Regions from separate parts of the Homo sapiens genome. Here region 2 is linked to region 1. Evidence: fine-mapped expression QTL. Tissue or cell type: transverse colon. Region 1 holds a variant in brackets; the other region holds the start of a gene. All regions are shown on one strand. Distances are between the middles of the regions.

What was found. PIP is the estimated chance that this variant, and not a neighbour inherited with it, causes the effect.
Region 2: RAB3IP starts here. The variant in region 1 is fine-mapped to the expression of RAB3IP in transverse colon (CEDAR, PIP 0.95). The same link has a PIP of 0.9 or more in monocytes.

What each region holds. Positions count from the first base shown.
Region 1 is chr12:69,805,077-69,807,843 of GRCh38, forward strand. The region is part of intron 8 of RAB3IP (RAB3A interacting protein); the gene reads left to right. Among named protein-coding and RNA genes, the nearest start is that of MYRFL, 19 kb to the right of the region's middle. The variant G/GTT (reference allele first, on the strand shown) is at 1,494.
Region 2 is chr12:69,737,340-69,739,958 of GRCh38, forward strand. RAB3IP (RAB3A interacting protein) reads left to right here and starts at 1,521. Exons shown (of 11, transcript NM_022456.5): 1 at 1,521-1,692. LOC101928002 (a long non-coding RNA gene) reads right to left here and starts at 1,211. Exons shown (of 4, transcript NR_110072.2): 1 at 939-1,211. RefSeq lists a silencer at 1,269-2,098.

The DNA.
Region 1 (2,767 bases):
TACCTTGGGCAGTATGGCCATTTTCACAATATTGAGTCTTCCTACCCATGAGCATTGAATGTTCTTCCATTTGTTTGTATCCTCTTTTATTTCATTGAGCAGTGGTTTGTAGTTCTCCTTGAAGAGGTCCTTCACATCCCTTGTAAATTGGATTCCTAGGTATTTTATTCTCTTTGAAGCAGTTGTGAATGGGAGTTCACTCATGATTTGGCTCTCTGTTTGTCTGTTATTGGTGTATAAGAATGCTTGTGATTTTTGTACATTGATTTTGTATCCTGAGACTTTGCTGAAGTTGCTTATCAGCTTAAGGAGATTTTGGGCTGAGACGATGGGGTTTTCTATGTGTACAATCATGTCATCTGCAAATTGGGACAATTTGACTTCCTCTTTTCCTAGTTGAATGCCCTTTATTCCCTTCTCCTGCCTGATTGCCCTGGCCAGAACTTCCAACACTATGTTGAATAGGAGTGGTGAGAGAGGGCATCCCTGTCTTGTGCCAGTTTTCAAAGGGAATGCTTCCAGTTTTTGTCCATTCAGTATGATATTGGCTGTGGGTTTGTCATAGATAGCTCTTATTATTTTGAAATACGTCCCATCAATACCTAATTTATTGAGAGTTTTTAGCATGAAGGGTTGTTGAATTTTGTCAAAGGCCTTTTCTGCATCTATTGAGATAATCATGTGGTTTTTGTCTTTGGTTCTGTTTATATGCTGGATTACGTTTATTGATTTTCTTATGTTGAACCAGCCTTGCATCCCAGGGATGAAGCCCACTTGATCATGGTGGATAAGCTTTTTGATGTGTTGCTGGATTCGGTTTGCCAGTATTTTATTGAGGATTTTTGCATCAATGTTCATCAAGGATATTGGTCTAAAATTCTCTTTTTTTGTTATGTCTCTGCCCGGCTTTGGTATCAGGATGATGCTGGCCTCATAAAATGTGTTAGGGAGGATTCCCTCTTTTTCTATTTATTGGAATAGTTTCAGAAGGAATGGTACCAGCTCCTCCTTGTGCCTCTGGTAGAATTCGGCTGTGAATCCATCTGGTCTGGACTTTTTTTGGTTGGTAAGCTATTAATTATTGCCTCAATTTCAGATCCTGTTATTGGTCTATTCAGAGATTCAACTTCTTCCTGGTTTAGTCTTGGGAGAGTGTATGTGTCGAGGAATTTATCCATTTCTTCTAGATTTTCTAGTTTATTTGCATAGAGGTGTTTATAGTATTCTCTGATGGTAGTTTGTATTTCTGTGGGAGCAGTGGTGATATCCCCTTTATCATTTTTTATTGCACCTATTTGATTCTTCTCTCTTTTCTTCTTTATTAGTCTTGCTAGCGGTCTATCAGTTTTGTTGATCTTTTCAAAAAACCAGCTCCTGGATTCATTGATTTTTTTGAAGGGTTTTTTGCGTCTCTATTTCCTTCAGTTCTGCTCTGATCTTAGTTATTTCTTGCCTTCTGCTAGCTTTTGAATGTGTTTGCTCTTGCTTCTCTA[G/GTT]TTTTTTTTTTTTTTTTTTTTTTAGTATTTATTGATCATTCTTGGGTGTTTCTTGGAGGGGGTATGTGGCAGTGTCATAGGATAATAGTGGAGAGATGGTCAGCAGATAAACACGTGAACAAAGGTCTCTGGTTTTCCTAGACAGAGGTCCCTGTGGCCTTCCGCAGTGTTTGTGTCCCTGGGTACTTGAGATTAGGGAGTGGTGATGACTCTTAATGAGCATGCAGCCTTTAAGCATCTGTTTAACAAAGCACATCTTGCACTGCCCTTAATCCATTTAACCCTGAGTTGACACAGCACATGTTTCAGAGAGCACGGGGTTGGGGGTAAGGTTATAGATTAACAGCATCCCAAGGCAGAAGAATTTTTCTTAGTCCAGAACAAAATGGAGTCTCCTATGTCTACTTCTTTCTAGACAGACACAGTAACAATCTGATCTCTCTTTCTTTTCCCCACATTTCCCCCTTTTCTTTTCAACAAAACCGCCATCGTCATCATGGCCTGTTCTCGACGGTCGCTGTCTCTTCGGAGCTGTTGGGTACACCTCCCAGACGGGGCGGCCGGGCAGAGGTGCTCCTCACTTCCCAGACGGGGTGGCCGGGCAGAGGAGCTCCTCACATCCCAGACAGTGGGCGGCCAGGCAGAGGCTCTCCTCACCTCTCAGACGGGGCAGCCGTGCAGAGGCGCTCCTCACCTCCCAGACGGGGCAGCCGGGCAGAGGCGCTCCTCACCTCCCAGACGGGGCGGCCGGGCAGAGGCGCTCTTCACCTCCCAGACAGGGCGGCAGGGCAGAGGCGCTTCCCACCTCCCTGACGGGGCGGCCGGGAAGAGGCGCCCCTCACCTCCCAGACGGGGCGGCCGGGCGGAGGCGCTCCTCACATCCCAGACAGGACGGCTGGGCAGAGGCGCTCCTCACTTCCCAGACGACGGGCGGCCGGGCAGAGGCACTCCTCACCTCCCAGACAGGGTGGCTGGGCAGAGACGCTCCTCACCTCTCAGACAGGGCGGCCGGACAGAGGCGCTCGCTTCCTAGATGGGGCGGCCGGGCAGAGGCGCTCCTTACCTCCCAGACGAAGGGTGGCCGGGCAGAGGTGCTCCTCACATCCCAGACGATGGGCGGCCGGGCAGAGGCGCTCCTCACTTCCTAGATGGGGCGGCCGGGCAGAGGTGCTCACTTCCCAGATGGGGCGGCTGGGCAGAGGCGCTCCTCACCTCCCAGATGATGGGCAGCCAGGCAGAGGCGCTCCTCACCTCCCAGACGGGGCGGCCGTGCG
Region 2 (2,619 bases), 68 kb before region 1:
TCACAGTGGAATTGATGTCTAGGCTAAATAATGAATAACAAATAATTAGCAAGGCAAGGAAAAGGTAGGAGATCAAGACATAAAAATAAACAGCATATGGAAATACAGGGTTGTATGTGAGTACGGCAAGACTGGGGAGCCTAAGTGGTTTGCTGTATATTTAATTTATTCATTTCACGTAGCTACTATTGACATACTTGTCTCCCTATATATGTTTGAGTCCGTGGATGGTGGGGACTTTGTAATGGTTTCTCTGTCCCTATGTCTAACAGGAGGCACACAGATGGAGTGCAATAAAATGTCTGATGAATAAATGACCAGCTATGAGGTGTAAGGGAGAATAGGAATCCATTAATGAGAAAGGTCATTTCTAGTGGCAATGAATATCAGATAAGATAGATTTAAGAATTATTTAGAAATTAGGATGAATAAGACTTGGTGATATATTGGCGATGGGGTATAAAATAAGAAACACTGGCTTTCTAGGTTTCTGGATTACAGATGCATGATAATAGTTATAATGGTATAATAACAATAGCTAATATTTATTAGGCACTCTGTGTCATGAAGTACGCAAAGTGTTTACATGAATTAAGCCATTTAAACTCTTAATGACTCAGTGAGGCAGGTTCTGTATACTCATTCACTGATGAGAAAATTGGGGCTAGAGAGATTCATTTGCCTAAGGTCACTCAGCTAGCAGGTGGCAGGCTCAAGCCCAGTAATTCTGACTCCAACAACCATACATATAGTCTACTTTTCTTTACTGCCTCTAATAGATGAGATTAATACCCAGAATGATGGTCCTATTCAATAAGTGTATCACACAAATGCACGTTTCTCTTTTGCTAAACATAGAGACACATACTATGACTACCTCTATTATTATTATTTTTTTTTGATTTTTGGGATCTTGGCTCTTTCTGTATTTTTCCTACCTGGAAGACCTAAAGTGGGGTAGAAGTTTGATAAAACAGTTGGCACAAAAGATGAGAGAAGACAGGTACAGACATGACATTCTCGAACGCTCTGGCAGTTGCTGGAATGATGGGATCTGGGTTCTACAGGATTCCTCCCCTCCCATCTCCCGCCACACACACACACGTCGTAAGGTGTATATGGCCGCGGAGTCTCAGGTTGGTTCTAGGAGTCCTCAACCCACGGCAAAGGTGCCTCTTCTCCCTCCTGGAGAGCCCAACATGCTTGAAGTTAACCTGAGGCCGCCTCTCGGGCCCGGCGAAACAGAGCGCGGGCCCGACGAAACAGAGCGCGGGCCCGACGAAACAGAGCGCAGCTCCGGCTCGCGCTGGTTCCCAGGGAAACCGCCCGCGGAGGAACCTCGGGCCAGGGCCGTGACACCTGCGACGAGCCCCGCCTGGCGCCAGGGGGCGCGGAAGCGCGTCCGCCCCCAGGCCCCATGCCGGGCTCGCCCCGCCCCTGCCGGCCACACCCCCCTACCCCGCCCTCCCTCCGTGAGGACCGGCCGCTCCCGGCTCCCGGCCCCCGGCCCCGCTTCCGGCGCAGGCGCAGTCCCGCGTTCCCTCGGCGGCTGCCGGCGTAGTGAGCCCGCCGCCGTGGAGTGTAGCGGAAAGGGCTCGCCGTCCTCCTCCGTTTCTCGCTGCTTCGGGACGCGCTCTCTGCGGCTCTGTGAGCGCCCCTGAGCGCCGGCAGCGGCCGCGGTGGGTTCTTCAGGTGAGTGCGGCCGCGGGAGGGAGAGGCCCGGAGCGTAGAGCACCGCCCCCCTCGGCGCCCGCGCGCCCGCCTCTGGCGAGTCGGCCAGGAGGGGCGGCCGCGGCAGGTGCAGGTGCTGGCGCCGTGCAGGGCGCGGCACGCGGGGGTTCGGGGGGATGCCCAGGCCCGGTGAGCTCGCTCTCCGCCTGGGCACTTGGGCTCCGGGCCCTTGGGGGCGGCGTGTGGGGGGGACTTTGGCGACCCGGGTCAGCCGGCCGCCCCCTGGGCTGCTGGTGGGCGTCGGGCGGCGGCTCCTCCCCCGGGCACGGGCGCGTTACACATTAACTGCGCGGTCCCGCGCGCCCGGGGCAGGGAGCCCGAGTCCAGCGGGTTACCTGGCGGCGGGCGGGCGCGGCCGGGAGCGGAGGGCCGCGGTCGCGAAGAGGATGAAGAGAGAGTTCCCGAACAAGTCGGAAGCAGCTCACAACACCGGACGCCGCGCGGCAGGGCTGTGGACCTGGGGTGGTTTCGTGTCCCAGTCTTAGGAAACTACGCGCGAGGCACCGTGCTGAGGCGTAGAGGTCACCCTCGGGAGGTTTCGGTGAAACCTGGTGGGAAATTCCGGGCAGGCGCCCGGAGTCGCGCCCAAGTAGGCAGCTCCGTGCCGCCAGACTTGTGTTCGGGGGAGTTGAGACGAACTGCACGGGTGGGATTGCATGGCTCTGCCCTCCCAGCGTTGACAACTCGCCCCGACCGCCCAGGAAGCGCGAGCTTACTGGCTCCAGAAGTGATGATGCTGGGTGGAAGTCGCAGCATGTGAAGAGTTGCCGGTTGTTATGGGATTAAAAAAGATGAAAGGGTAAGGTCTTGAAAGACACGAGCGCTGAGTTAGTTAGTACTGATTACTGAGAGGCAATTTAGTTTCATGGAAATGTTGCCTGTTCGGAG